Linked DNA regions of Homo sapiens: region 1 is linked to region 2. A link means that fine-mapping ties the variant in region 2 to the expression of a gene that starts in the linked region. Tissue or cell type: gastroesophageal junction. Region 2 holds a variant in brackets; the other region holds the start of a gene. All regions are shown on one strand. Distances are from middle to middle.

What was found. PIP is the estimated chance that this variant, and not a neighbour inherited with it, causes the effect.
Region 1: PCOLCE2 starts here. The variant in region 2 is fine-mapped to the expression of PCOLCE2 in gastroesophageal junction (GTEx, PIP 0.96).

The regions. Positions count from the first base shown.
Region 1 is chr3:142,884,319-142,892,429 of GRCh38, reverse strand. It overlaps PCOLCE2 (procollagen C-endopeptidase enhancer 2), which reads left to right and starts at 3,347. Exons shown (of 9, transcript NM_013363.4): 1 at 3,347-3,616; 2 at 4,653-4,761. The coding sequence starts at 3,534. LOC124909443 (a long non-coding RNA gene) reads right to left here and starts at 4,166. Exons shown (of 2, transcript XR_007096122.1): 1 at 3,971-4,166; 2 at 1,663-2,839. RefSeq lists a silencer at 3,355-3,404.
Region 2 is chr3:141,893,132-141,901,131 of GRCh38, reverse strand. The region is part of intron 1 of ATP1B3 (ATPase Na+/K+ transporting subunit beta 3); the gene reads right to left. Among named protein-coding and RNA genes, the nearest start is that of ATP1B3, 20 kb to the right of the region's middle. The variant C/T (reference allele first, on the strand shown) is at 4,994.

The DNA.
Region 1 (8,111 bases), 990 kb before region 2:
TAATGTGTGTTTACAGACATCAAAAAACACTGAATTTTTTTTTTTTTTAGATGGAATCCCACTCTGTCGCCCAGGGTGGAGTGCAGTGCCGTGATCTCGGCTCGCTGCAACCTCTGCCTCCTGGGTTCAAGCGATTCTTGTGTCTCAGCCTCCCGAGTAGCTGGGATTACAGGCGCCCATCACCACGCCCAATTAACGTTTGTATTTTTGGTAGAGACAAGGTTTCACCATGTTGGCCAGGTTGATCTTGAACTCCTGGGCTCAAGTGACCTGCCCACCTCTGCCTCCCAAAGTGCTGGGATTACAGGCCTGAGCCACCGTGCCCAGTGTGAACTAACTTATGAACATTCCGGATTTTTTACAAGATGAGTACCGCACTATGGAATAAATGTGCAATGGATTTACACGACATTTTCAGACGTTTACAAGGTTGATGAGTGAATCAGAGATTAGCTGACAATGTTGACATATTGGGCCCAGCTAGATACTAGCATTGTGTAGCAAGGAATGTTTGAGTGGGGCCTAATTTTATAAGTGGTCAGTTCATTGGTGAATATTTTCATATTCCCATGATGCTGATTCTCTGTGCAACCTGGTAACAGCAGAGGCTGGATAATAAGGATCAGTTCACCCACCACTCCACTTTTTGTTTTAAAGAATCTACCCACAGGGCTTTTGTTCTTTTTCTCTCTCCACTTTTCTACTGCCTGTGGGGGTAGCTCCTTGTCCATTATACTAATTCTGTTATCACACAAGTCCAGAAACTGGTCTCACAGAGATGGACCTTACATATACCTTCAAAGTGCACTTGAGTCTTGATATGGTTTGGCTGTGTCTCCACCCAAATCTCACCTTGAATTGTAATAATCCCCAGGTGTCAAGGGTGGGACCAGGTGGAGGTAATTGAATCGTGGGAATGGTTTCCCCCATGCTGTTCTCCTGGTGGTGAGTGAATGCTCATGAGAGCTGATGGTTTTGTAAGGGGCTTTTCCCCTTCTCCTATCACCCTGTGAGGAGGTGCCTTCTGCCATGATTATAAGTTTCCTGAGGACTCCCCAGCCATGTGAAACTGTGAGTCAATTAAACTTCTTTTCTTTATAAATTACCCAGTCTCGGGTATTTCTTCATAGCGGCGTGAGAACAAACTAATAAAAGTCTCTCAATTTTAACACATCAACTTCTCAGGACATTTAAGGTTTATAATTTTGGTCAGAACTGTAGTTCCAAGTCAAATATGTGTTTTTAAGAGCCAATAATATGGGTTTTAGTAAATTCTAAAATCACATGGTAAAATCAATGTCTTATGAGTGTCAACAACAGAATGATTGGTGTTAAAATCCTAACTCTTTAGTGAGCATATGAACACAGTCATCAATCTATAAATTAAGAAATGGCTGTGTATTTTAGTTCAAATAGTTTCCTATTTAGGCACATTTAATACTTTGTTATTTATTTTAAATTTTGAAAACTTAGCTTAGTCCTGAATGAAGTATTTTCTGGTTTACGAGGACTGCAAATCATTACCAGAAAGTGAATTGAGCAATATTTCCCTTTATAATTTAAAACTATGACTTTCAAATAAACAATTATCTAAAAACACTTATGCTATTAGATAGCATATTCTTGAAATGCGTGCAAAATCAACAACCATTTATTCTCCTCTTCCCTGTTTTAAAGACATTTTTATTGGGTTGAGAGTGTTTCAGGATATAAAGCAGTTTGCCAAATTCTGTCACCCTTTTTTTTAATGTCATAAAGGGTGTGGTGCCTGTAGAGAAGTTTTGAAAGTTGTACTTTATGATGTTTTTGCCTTCACTTTTTAAAAAAATGGTAAGATAATCTAAGTCCTGTCCGTATATTCTGGTTCCTAGTATAGGCTTCAGGGTGCACTCACTATGAAAAGTCAGAATATTTCCTGTAGCCAGTTTTACTTACTTCCTTGCCAGGAGTGTTTAGGTTCTTTTTTTTTTTTTTTTCTTTTTTGAGATGGAGTCTCACTCTGTCGCCCGGGGCTGGAGTGCAATGGCGTGATCTCGGCTCACTGCAACCTCCGCCTCCCGGGTTCACGCGATACTTCTGCCTCAGCTTCCCGAGTACCCGGGATTACAGACGCACACCGCAACACCTGGCTAATTTTTTGTATTTTTAGTCGAGGCGGGGTTTCACCATCTTGGCCAGACTGGTTTCGAACTCCTGACCTCGTGATCCGCCCGCCTCGGCCTCCAAAAGTGCTGGGATTACAGGCGTGGGCCATCGCGCCCACCCGTGTTTAGATTCTTAACAGCTCATTATTAGAAATAAAGTCTCGATAAGAACTACTTTAATACTTAATTTTCTTGCTTAGAAAGGTGAAAACAATTTAGAAGGAACAACGTGAGGCATCAAAGTTAAGCTGTATCTCCCATAGCTGGTGATTATTAAAAATCTCTATGAATCTAGTCTGTTCCTGTCATTCTTTTATTAATCCCTGGTTATTGGGAAGCTCTTAACAAAATAAATGTTTAAAATTATATTTCTGTAATTAAGTAAAAGAGAGTATTGATTCCACAAGGCTAGAATTGTTCGTCTAAGAAAAACGAATTCTCCGTAAATTTTAACCCGTTAATACCACAGAAAGATGCTGTTGGAAAGGTCTAAGAACAGAGAGATGCAAGCAGAGAAACACCATTTTCAGAACATGACATGGGATGGTGAGATTTGCTGATTTGGTTCCGTCTTCATTATCTGACATTTAATGACAGTTCACACAGAAATCGCTCGCCTGAAAACCCGTGTTTAAATCCCGGCACAGAGACTGTCTTCCTTGTCATTGTCATACCAGTAAAAAAAAGAAAAGTATCTAGAGAGAGAGAGAGGAGAATAAGCACAGAAGTTAAAATACAATAAAATCCCTTTTCCCTTTCTTTCCTTGGATCTGGGTTTTGAAGGAGACAAAGAAGGACCCCCAGGCTTTCCAGCAGCCAGCAAGCGCTATTACTTTTTATTTAAAAGCAACTGGGAAAAACATTCCCCAAAGCAAAACCAGAAGCCCTCCCTGAGAATCGTCTCTGGGCGTCGGGGCCCGGGCCGCTGGGGTGCCACTCCGCAAGGGGTTCCTCTTCTCCCCGGGGTCCCTGAGGGCTGGACGAGAGAGGACCCGTCGGTCCCGGGGTGCCGGGAGGAGACGTTCGCCCGCCCCACGAGAGGGGGCGGCTCTGGCCTCGGAGCCGCCCCTCCTGCCGCCGGAGAACAAACGGGATATTCAGCAGTGGCCTGTGGCTGCCAGAGCAGCTCCTCAGGGGAAACTAAGCGTCGAGTCAGACGGCACCATAATCGCCTTTAAAAGTGCCTCCGCCCTGCCGGCCGCGTATCCCCCGGCTACCTGGGCCGCCCCGCGGCGGTGCGCGCGTGAGAGGGAGCGCGCGGGCAGCCGAGCGCCGGTGTGAGCCAGCGCTGCTGCCAGTGTGAGCGGCGGTGTGAGCGCGGTGGGTGCGGAGGGGCGTGTGTGCCGGCGCGCGCGCCGTGGGGTGCAAACCCCGAGCGTCTACGCTGCCATGAGGGGCGCGAACGCCTGGGCGCCACTCTGCCTGCTGCTGGCTGCCGCCACCCAGCTCTCGCGGCAGCAGTCCCCAGAGAGGTAACGCGACCCCTGCCCGGGCTCCCTTTCTCTCCTTTCCCTTCCTCCACCCCTGCAGCCTCGCCTGCTGCTTTACTCAACCCGCTTCGGCGCGCCTGGGTGACCCAGCGCTCGACCCTGCGCTCCCGCGCGGTGCAGGCGTCCGCCACCCTCGGGTAGGCTAAGCCCGGGACTTCGGGACCCATCCTTGCTCGCGGGGCTCCCTCCTGGGTCCCCAGCCCGGCCTGCCGGATGGCCCTGCAGCTGGCTTGGCCACCACGTGGCGGGGCTTAATCTGACTTGTGTCTCCCCTCTCCTCGTGTCTATGGGGCCAGAGGGAAGCACTGGGGCCCAAATATGTGGATTTTGGTTTACCGCTGTTTTTTTTCCTTCCCCGAGAGGCTTTGCCCAGAGACGTAAACTAGGGAACAACCCTAGCGGCGCGGCGCCTAGGGAGCCGCTCCGGAAAGTTAACTCTTCGCCAACCTCTGGAAGGCCCCAGGAGCTGGGCTGTGGGACCTGCCCGGTGGCCAACTTTGGCATCACCTCTTCAGCCTCCATCAACATCAGCCTCCCTTTCGATGGGAAGCTCTGCCAATGGCGAGTGATTTTCAGAAAGGGGGAGGAGAACTGGGCATCTCTCCAAATATGGGAACGACAAACTTTTTTTATATTAACCAATTGCTTGCCTGTCTTTCTTTAAAACCATGCTTCTCATTCAGCCTGGCTCTTACCTTCTCTCCCACTCCCCCAGTTAAATTGATGTATTTACCATTTTCCTACAAGACTTTGCCACAATGCCGAGGACTTGATTATACATATATATAATCTTGTGTTATTATGATGGAGACAGATGGCGCTGGACTGAATGCTTTGTCAGGCTATAATTTAAATATTCTAGGAGCTAGCAAATTTTCAGATCCCTTATATGGTGCAAGCATTGATTAATCAACATTAACTTTTATTTATATTAATAGGCTACACCTTTCTGAAGGTAACATCAGATTGTTAGACCATGTTTCAAATTACATTATCTTTTCTTCTTTTATGTTCCCAGACCTGTTTTCACATGTGGTGGCATTCTTACTGGAGAGTCTGGATTTATTGGCAGTGAAGGTTTTCCTGGAGTGTACCCTCCAAATAGCAAATGTACTTGGAAAATCACAGTAAGCATTTTTTAAAAAGGTATTCTCCTGGAAGTGGGTGTTGGCAACAGTGTGAGGCTGCTGCCTTTTTCCTCTGGTGTTAGGATTTGAGTAAGAGGCAAATGCCTGAAATAGTGAAATGTTGGATTTACCCCAACTATTGGGAAGATTTTTATTAATATAATAGATCTAGTCGTGTCCTGCATTAGTGATTACAAAGGGCACAAGATAATGCTTGAAGGAATAAATTCTCAGAGCAGATGTGTTTCTGAAAGCCCAGTGTGACTCAGTTGAGTTTTATAGATTCATAATTAAAGCTGTTTTCAGTCAAAGGCCTGTTGTAATGACCTTCATAAGTTTTTTGTTGCTCGTGCCTTCATAAATTCCCAGTGGGAAATGGAAGATCAAAGATAGTGCTTTGACTACTCTATGCTCATTAGGAAAGGAAAAAGAAAAAAAATAAAAAAAGCCCACTTAATGTTCCTGGGTTGAAACCACCTCTAAAGGCAGTCTAAGAATAGAGAATGGGGGGGTGGGAATCTAAATAGCAGCCAAGGGCCAATAAAAAGTCCATGCTGATTAGTAATAACATAGATTATGCTGAGTCAAGATAAGCTGGATTTAGAGACAGCCATATATTTTTTAACTGATTTAGAGTCAACTAGAGTGAGTCATCTTTCCAGTCAGCATAGCATTGACTGTTACCTTCTTCACTTTTTCGTTGTTGGGAAGTTGTTTAGTAATTGAATACGTTGGTTCACTGAGAGCTTCTTTCAGTCAGATTGTGCCACTGGAGGACTTAGATTTTTTAAAAAGTAGCCCCCACTGAATGTGTAAACTAGCAGTTACTGTGTGCCAGGCATTTACCATGCCAAGTAGTTAGCAAGTATAATCACCCAGAATCCTCAAAACAACTGTATGAGAAAGTATCTATTATCATCCCTATTTTATAGATGGGGAAGCTGAGGCCTGAAACAATTATAGAAATTGACTTGATCAGACAGTCGGGAAGCCCAACTTTATGTAAAAGTAAAACCTACTTTGCAATAAGGTATTCCCACTGAGGTCATTTTGCAGGCAGATATGAGAGGTCCCCTTCCATAATATAAAACTCAGCTCTTACATGCCTTGACGGCCTCTTGTAAAATGCCAACCATGTCACAAACTGGTACAGATTTCATTATGTTATTATAGCACATGTGGCCAGGAAAGAAGTCATAGAAAATAAGTTTGAAATACTATTAACATAAATGTCAAATAAGTCTCTGAAACAAAAATAAAAGCAGCTTGATTTTCATGTCGTGATTGTGTTTTAAATGTAATTAAATGGCCATAAGTTTTAAACGACCCTAGAAAATCAATGGCTCAGAGGCGTCATGTGCCCAAGTAGAAATTCATGGTTGGCCATGTGTTCTGAGTATTGCGGACAGGTTGATGTGACTTTACACTTTGACTGGGGTTGGGGGGCACGTCCAGTGAAAGCTTTCCTTGATAAAGGAACGGTTTGCCTCAGGAGAGGCATGATTTCCTGTGTGGGAGTGGGGAAGTTAAATGGATGCTCCATCTGGATGTCCTGTGAAGGGAAAGCCTGTGAGCTCAGCAGTCACTTCCCTGGATTCAAATTCCAGTTTCACCGCCATAAACTGTGTGTCCAGGATCTACCTCCTTTAAACCTTAGGATTACTGTGAAGACAAAATGAGATAGTGTAAAATGCTTCAACTCAGTGCCTGAGTGGGAAGAAGCTTGATTTGTCTGAAGAACAAATTAAGGAGGTTGGAGTGGCTGGAATGGAATGAGCAAGGGGACAGTGGGAAGAGAAGCGAAGAAGGTAAACAGGACTCTGTAGGCCACGGTGGAGAGTTTGAATTTTGTTTTGAGTAGGAGTCACTGGAAGATCTTAAGCAGAGGAATGAGCTTATCTGGTGTCTGCGTGGAAGATGAACTGTAGGGAGTTAAGAGTAGAGGCAGAGAGACCAATTAGGAAGCTGTTGTGGTATCCAGGAGAGGGAAGATGGTGGAGTAGACAAGGTGGTAGCAGAGAAGATGAAGAAATGCGGAGTCTTCTGCCCACAGTGTTTTCTCAGCAGCTCTGCCTGCGGTTAGGATATAGTGGCACCAGCTAGAAGGATACATGCACCAGGCTCTGTCTCCCTGCTTAGCCATTCCAGACAGGACTGTGCTCTACTATGGCCTTGTCCAAGGCCATCTATTAAAGGTTTTTCCCACGCTGGTTGGTCCAGCCCATTTTTCTGTTCCTGCAGTCAGTAAACCAAGAATAGTGTTCCCATTGAGTGATTCAGTATCACTTTTATTAAAATATCACAGAGGCCGCTGGAGATGGGAAAGCCTCAGAGTGGTCCTTAAACTGTAGTTCCTGTAGCTGGGGGGAAATATCTTGCTTTCACTCACTGGCCTCCCATTCTGTTCGTCCAAACTGGAGATGTGTCCCAGCATGGTAGCTTTCACCGCTAAATGGTTTTCATTAAACTCTATCATATCAATGCAAGAATGGGAAATGTCTGATTTTAACTTTTGCTTTAAGAAAGGTGAATCCTAGTTGTTACCACCAAACTTCCAGTCCTTCGTGTTGGACTTTCTGATGCGAAAGTACAGCCTGCAGATTGGAAATTTAGATGTGTCCTTACATTATAGTACTTTAAAATTTTTATAGCAATTTCTTAGACAGCTGCATTGTTCCAACACACTGTATTGGCTATTTAAATGTAAATTAAGTTAAACATTTAGTTTCTTAGTCATACTAGCCACATTCAAGTGCTCAATAGCCACATGTGGATAGTGGCTGCCTTACTGGACAATATGTAATATAGTATTTCTGTCATCACAATTTTTCTTGTGGACAGTGCTGTGCTATTAATAGAAAAATTTTATGCTTAATTTTACTCACGTAAAATGTTGAGGACAGAGGTGCTCTGTGCTGCTTAGTTGTACTTCTGCTTTGCAAATAGGGAAGCTGCTACTGGTTCTTTGTAGTTGTTGGAGCTGTAACTGGAACTCAAGACTCTTGACTCAGCTTTATCACCAAGAGTTGATGGCCTTAACAGGTCTTAGGTTTTTTACTTTTACTGTATGTGTTCTCAAAAATGTATGCTTAGAGACTAAATTAGAGAATTTGGGTGTTAAGAAATAGTTGAATATTTTGTAATCCATGATGGGGTTGAGAGTTTCTTAGTTTACTGTAGGAGTTGATTCTGGGGACTATAACCTAAAAGGCATCTGCATAAAATCCCCTAATTCTCAAATACGGGGACGTGGGTATGAGTTAAATGTGATTTGACAGCTAAGGTATATATAATCCTTTGGAAAGTAGTGACTGGTCTTCTAAGCAGGCTTGGAAGAACAATAGGGTTGG
Region 2 (8,000 bases):
AAAATCTTTCAAGAAATTTCCTTATTACCCAACTAAAGAAACTAACATGGGCCAGGTGCAGTGGCTCACGCCTGTAATCCCAGCACTTTGGGAGGCCAAGGCGGGCAGATCACCTGAGGTCAGGAGTTCGAGACTAGCCTGGCCAATATGATGAAACCCTGTCTCTACTAAAAATGCAAAAAATAGCCAGGCGTGGTGGTGCACTCCTGTAATTCCAGCTACTTGAGAGGCTGAGATGGGAGAATTGCTTGAACCCAGGAGGCAGAGGCTGCAGTGAGCCGAGACTGTGCCACTGCACTCCGACCTGGGTGACAGAGAGAGACCCCTTCTCAAAAAAACAAAAACAAGAAAACAACCAGACAGGCAAGAAACCTGGCAAGACTTAGGAACCACCATGTCATCCAGGGGAAGGAGAAACGGGCCCTGTCCAGCTCTTCTGCCTCAACCACACTGGGCGTACAATTCAATTCTGGCACCAACTACCCCATGCTACGGGCTCAGTCCTCCATAGAAATGCTGCTGCAGAGGTCCTCCCACTACCCACACTTCTGACCAACTAGTAACTAATACAGGAGGTTTCCACTGCACCCTCAAGTTTGTTCACTAGAATGACTCACAGAGCTCAGGAAAGTAAGTGCTCAAATTAGGATTTCAGTTTTATTATAAAGGATACATGTAGAATGGGGTCTGGGAGGCAAGGCAGTTTCTGTGTCCTCTCCTTGAGGAATCAGGGCTATCTCCCTCCCAGCACATGTGTTTCCTAACCTGGCAGCTCCACTGAACTTCAGTGTCCAGAGTTTTTACTGGGGTTTCATTATGTAGGTATGATTGACTAAACCACAGGCCACACAATATAGCTCAGTCTCCAGCCCTCTTTCCTGCCCTCCTTGGAGGTCTGGCTAGCTCAAAGTCCCAACCATGTAGGGACTTGGTTTGGTCTTTCTGGGGGACCATGCTCCATCTTGAAGCTATCTAGGGACCCACTGCCAGTCACTTCATTAGCATAATAAAGACACTCCTACTACTCAAATTCCAGGGTCTTTAGAAGCTCTGTGCCAGGAACCTGGAAAAAACATCAAACAAAAAAAAAATTTTTTTTTTGAGACAGGGTCTTTCTCTGTCACCCAGGCTGGAGTACAGCGGTGCAATCAAAGCTCACTGCATCCTCAAAATCCTCGGCTCAAGTGATTCTCCTGTCTCAGCTTCCTGAGAAGTTGGGACTACAGTTGTGTGCCACCACACTCAACTGACACTTTTTTTTGGAGATGGAGTTTCTCTCTTGTTGCCTAGGCTGGAGTGCAATGGTGTGATCTCAGCTCACCACAACCTCTGCCTCCTGGGTTCAAGTGATTCTCCTGCCTCAGCCTCCTGAGTAGCTGGGATTACAGGCATGTGTCACCACACCTGGCTAATTTTGTATTTTTAGTAGAGACGGGGTTTCTCCATGTTCATCAGGCTGGTCTCGAACTCCTGACCTCAGGTGATCTGCCTGCCTCAGCCTTCCAAAGTGCTGGGATTACAGGCGTGAGCCACTGCATCCAGCCAACAAATTCTTTATTATGCAACACCAGCACACATAATCTGGACACAGGGAAAAGTCACTGGGCTTCATGAGGGCCTGGAAATATGCCCCCTCAACACATGACTAGACCCTGTGATCTTACTCTCAACCTCTGCACACTTTCTAGCTATCTTCAGGGACCTAGATGCTAGAAAGATTGGGCCTCTCAGAAAATACTGATGACTAGCAACCATTTCCATTTGGTAAATAAACTAGCATTCTGTTTATAGTTTAAAACATTTTAAAGCAGAGACATGTATAATTTCTAAAAAATCCATTATATGAACAGGTGCAAGTTTATAATCTTTTGTATATTTGAATTTTTAAAAACAATACTGATTTTTAACAATATTATTCGCATACCATTCACATATGTAAAGTGTGAAGTTTACATTTTATATTCAGAGTTGTATAAGCATCACCACAATAAATTTTAAAATATTTTCAACACCTCCTCCCAAAACTCCATACCCATTCCCATTCCTCTCCCTCCCTGCACCCAGTTCCTGGCAATCACTAGTCTACTTTGTCTCTATAGATCTATTTTCTAGACATTTCCTAGAAATGGAATCATGTAATACATGGCTTTTGTCACTGGCTTCTTCCATGTAAGGTGTTTTCAAGGTTCATTTATGCTACAGCATATATCAGTACTCCATTCCTTTTTATGGCTGAATAATATCCCACTGTATATGGATATACAATATTTTATTGATTCATTAATCAGATGATGTGCATGTGAGTTGTTTATATCTTTTGGCCATTATGAATAATGTTATAAACATTCATGCACAAGTTTTTGTATAAATAAATGGTTTCATTTCTCTTGGGTATATACCTGGGAGTCAAACTGCTAGGTCATATGGTAACTCTAGCCTTTTGAGTAACTGGTAGACTGTCTTCCAAAGCAGTTTCACCATTTTACACTCCTACAGCAGGGATCCAATTCCTCCTCAACCTCATTAACACTTCTTTTACTGTGTTTTCATACAGCTATCCTAGTGGATACAATGTAGTATCTCTTTGTGGGTTTAATTTGCATTTTCCCTAATGGCTAATGATGCTGGGCATTTTTTCATAAACTCATTGGTTATCTGTATATTTTCTACAGAGAACTGTCTATTCAGATCATTTTCTCATTTTTAGATTTGGTTATCTGCCTTTTTTATTAAGTTCTAGAAGTTATTTATATATAGATACAAGCCCCTTACCAAATATATAATGTGCAATTATTTTCTCCCATTCCACAAGTTATCCTTTTACTTTCCTAATAATGTTATTTAAGCAAAAAAGTTATTAATTTTGATGAAGAACCACTTATCTATTTTTTCTTTGGTTGCTTGTGCTTTTGGTGGCATATCTAAAATAACACTGACTAATCCAAGGTCATAAAGACTTGCATCTATGTTTACTTCTAAGAATTTTATAAATTAGCTCTTAAGTTTGGGTCTTTGATCCATTTTGAGTTAATTTTTGTATATGGTTTGAGGTAGGGGTCCACCTACATTGTTCTGCATGGAAAGATCCAGTTGTCCCACTACTGTTTAAAAAACTATTTGTTGGCCAGGCACAGTGGCTCATGCCTATAATCCCAGCACTTTGAGAGGCCGAGGCAGGCAGATCACCTGAGGTCAGGAGTTCGAGACCAGCCTGGCCAACATGGTGAAAACCAGTCTCTACTAAAATTACAAAAATTAGCTGGGCATGGTAGCATGTACCTGTAATCCTAGCTACTTAGGAGGCTGAGGTGGGAGAATCGCTTCAGCCTAGGAGGCAGAGGTTGCAGTGAGCCAAGATTGTGCCATTGCACTCCAGCCTGGGTGTCAGAGTGAGACTCTGTCTCAAAATAAAACAAAAAACAAAAACAAAAACCCGATGAACATGTACTGTTTTAATAAAATGTATGCACATATATGTATGTATACACACACTCTCACATTTTATATAATTAAAATTATTGTAATATAAAAGATTAAACAAGATTAAATAACCTGCCTAAGATTAACCTACCAGTAAAAGAAATAGACCAGTATCTCTCCATGTCTGGCCTGCTCTCCCAGGGAGTCTCAAGCTCTATTGTCTTTTCTATTAAAACTCCCATTCTCTAAATAAAAATGTCTCATTCAAGTATTCTGTGTTACTCAGGGTGATAGAAATTCACATGTGAATAATATCTGCTGCTTCTCTACAAGAGTTCAGTTATTACAAATGACAAATATGTAAACAATGAATTATAGATACTGGATGCTAGGAAAAAAAACAAAAAGAATCCTCTCTAGCAGGAAGAGGAAGAAAAGGGACATCAGAGAAGGCCACCCAGAAATAAGGTAGTTGGCTCACCAAAGATGGAGAGGAGGAGGGAGCTCTGGGTCAAAGACTAGGTGATGAGATGGAGTACCACAGCAGGAGCAGTCAGGTGAGCACAGCTTTGCTTCTCTCAGTATGCATGAGCCCCTGGTGCCAAGCAACTAGCAACAGTAGCAGCAGCATCTGCTTGAAGTGGGAACAGGGAGCTTGGGCTGGAAAAGTGGGCCATGTTCTGAATGGGTTGGTGAAAGGTTACAGGAGCAGACAGCCTCCACACCCAGGCTGCTCTTGGCTATACAGGCTACCTCCATCCCTGAATGTTGTAATAGGAAAGTCTAAACACACAGAAGAGGAGCACAAAACCAATAATTATCACACATTCAAAATAAAACTAATCCATAAAGAAAAGTACCAAACTCAACAAAGACAGCAATGCCTGAAAACACTGGGCTGTATCAGCAAATAGAACAAAGAAAAATAAGCATAATTAAAACAGTAGAAGGTGAAGGATAATTTTTAAAAATTAGATATCATATTCTGATTATTGAAATAAAAAACTTAGTAGAAAAGCTTAACTGAAGAAGAATCAAAACTGAAGAAGAACCCAGACAGTTATGAAAATGAAAAAGCAAACCAAAGACTGGGAAAAAATATTTGCAAAACATAAAATAAATGACTCACTCCTATCTAGAATATATGAAGAACTTTTACAACAAAACATATTACTTATTTTATTTTAGAGACAGGGTCTCGTTCTGCTGCCCAAGCTGGAGTGCAGTGGCACAATCAATCATAGCTCCCTGCAGCCTCAAACTCCTGGGCTCAAGCAATCCTCCTGCCCCAGCCTCCCCAGTAGCTAGGACTACAGGCACATACCACCGTGCCCAGCTAATTAAAAAAAATTTTTTTTGTACAGAAGGGGGTCTTCTTAAGAAAATTTTTTTTTTTTGTAATTTTACTAGAGATGGGGTTTCACCATATTGGCCAGGCTGTTCTTGAATTCCTGACTTCAAGTGATCCTCCTGCCTCGGCCTCCCAAAGTACTAGAATTACAGGCGTGAACCATCATCCCCAGCCGAGAAGGGGATTTTGCTCTGTTGTCCAGGCTGCTCTCAAACTCCTGGA[C/T]TCAAGTGATCCTCCCACCCTGGCCTCCCAAAGTGCTGGGGTTAGAAGTGTGAGCCACCGCACCCAGTCCAAGACACATTTTTTGAAGCAGGCAAAAGATCTGAACCGAAACTTCACCAAGATGTAAGGATTGCAAAAATAAGCCCATAAAAAGTGTGTTCCAAATCATTAGTCACCAGGGAAGAGAAATCAAAACTATAATGAGCTCCACTACATACCCACCAGAATGCTAGAAATTTTAAAGACTGACCGTACCATGTAATGACCCAGAAGTGGAGCAACTGAAACTCTCACATCCTGCTGGTGGGAATGTTTTTTGTTGCTGTTGTTGTTTTTAAAAAGAAAAAGAAAAGTTTGACAATTTTTTGAAAAGTTAGCAACATGCACACCTACCAAAAGATCCAGCCAATCTACTTCTAGATATTTACCCAAGAAAAATAAAAGCCCATGTTCACACAGTAGGGAAATGTGAATGTTCAGACACTTTATTTATAATCACTGAAAACTGCAAACAACCCAAATATCCACCAACAGTTGAATTAATAAATTTGGCTATATCCATACAATGCAATACTATTCAGCAATAAGAACTGTGGATACACATGGAAACACAGATGGATCTCAAAATAATTATGCTAAAGAAAAAAGAGGCGGGACGCAGTGGCTCACGCTTGTAATCCCAGTACTTTGAGAGGCTGAGGCAGGTGCATCACCTGAGGTCAGGAGTTAGAGACCAGCCTGGCCAACGTGGTGAAACCCAGTCTCTACTAAAAATACAAAAAATTAGCCAGGCATGGTAGCGGGCACCTGTAATCCTAGCTACTCGGGAGGCTGAGGCAGGAGAATTGCTTGAACACGGGAGGCAGAGGTTGCAGCGAGCTGAGATCACGCCACTGCACTCCAGCCCGGGCAACAGGGTAAGAGTCCATCTTAAAAAAAAAAAAAAAAAAGAAAAGAAAGAAAAAAGAGACAATAACATGCACAGGAGCTGTCATCTCCTATGAGACCCTCCCCCCAAAAAAAACATAAAGCATGATTCCACATACAGACATACACCACGTAACATTTCAGTCAGTGACAGACTGCATACACAACAATAGTCCCATTAAGATCATAATAAAGCTGAAAAATTCCTATGGCCTAGTGATGTCGCAACACAATGCATTACTCACGTGTCTGTAGCAATGCTGGTATAAACAAACCTACCAGTCACATAAAAGTCTAGTATGCAACAACTGTGTACAATGCATAATACTTAATAATGATAATAAACTGCTATGGGTTTATATATTTACTATGCTATACTTTTTGTTGTTATTTTATAGTGTACTCCTTCTACTTACAAAGTTAACTGTAAAAAGCCTCAGGCAATCCTTCAGGAGGTATCCAGAAGAAGGCATTGTCATCACAGAGGACAGCCCCATGCGTGTTGCTGCCCCTGAAGACCTTCCAGTGGGGCAAGAGATGAAGGTGGAAGACGGTGATACTGATGATTCTGACTCTGTGTAGGTCTAGGCTAATGTGCATGTTTGTGTCTTAGTTTTTAACAAAAAAGTTTAAAAAGTTAAAACTTTTAAATAGAAAAAATGTTATAGAATAAGGATATAAAGAAAATATTTTTATGCAGCTGTACAATGTGTTTGTGCTTTAAAAGCTAAGTGTTATTAAAAGTATATAAAGTCGCTGGGTATGAAGGCTCACACCTGCAATCCCATAGCTTTGGGAGGCTGAGATGGGAAGATTGCTTGAAGCCAGGAGTTCGAGACCAGCCTGGGCAACATAGCAAGACCCCATCTCAATTAAAAAAAAAAATTGTAAAAAGTTACAGTAAGCTAAGGTTATTACTGAAGTAAAAAAAATTTTAATAAATTTAGTGTAGCCTAAGTGTACAGTGTTTATAAAGTCTACAGTAGGGTACAGTAATGTTCTAGGCCTTCACATTCACTCACCACTCACTCACTGCAACTGTAGTCCTGCAAGCTCCATTCAAGGTCAGTGCCCTATACAGGTATACCATTTTTTATGTTTACATGGTATTTTTACTGTACCTTTTCTATGTTGAGATATGTTTACAGACAAATACTTACCATTGTGTTACAATTGCTAACAGTATTCATCCAGTAACATGTTGTACAAGTTTGCAGCTAGGAGCAACAGTCTATACCATATGGCCTATATGTCTAGAGGGCTATGCCATCTAGATTTGTGTAAGTCCACTTTATAATGTCTGCACAACAATGAAATCAATGAACACAGCTAAGCACATTTCTCAGAAGGCATGGCTGTATTTAATACAGACTGTCAAAAAGCAGATTTTTGCTTGGAGCCTGGGAAGGTAAGAACAGAGATGGGTTACAAAGTGCCAAGAGGGAATGTTTGGGGTGATAAATGTTCATTATCTTGATTACAGTGACAGTTTCATGAATACAGCATATGCACACACATATACATGAGTGTATACCAAAACTTCAAATATGTGCAGTTTATTGTATGTTAATTATACCTCAATAAAGCTGTTAAAGACAAACAAAAACTTAACCTCAGGAGAACTGGTCAAGCTGAAGAAAAATTCAGTGAGCTAAAGATCAAGTCAGGTATTCTATGACAGTGGGCTAACAGAGAAGGAGTATATGAAAAATTGTTGAGACATTGGGGAGAGAACCAGAAATACAAACAAATCTAATAGGAACTCCACAGGAAAAGAGGGTGGGGCAAGAACTCTCAAAGAAATAACAAGCTTGTGTCTAGATTGGAAATGTTAAAAAATACTGGAAAACATCCTATACCTAGAAATAAAAAGGTAAAATTTTAGAACATCAAGAATAAAGAGAGCTGGGTGTGGTGGCTCACGTCTGTAATCTTAGCACTTTAGGAGGCCAAGGCGGGTGGATAGCTTGAGATCAGGAGTTCGAGACCAGCTTGGCCAACATGGTGAAACCCCGTCTCTACTAAAAATAAAAAAATTAGTCAGGTGTGGTGGTGCGTGCCTGTAATCCCAGCTACTCGA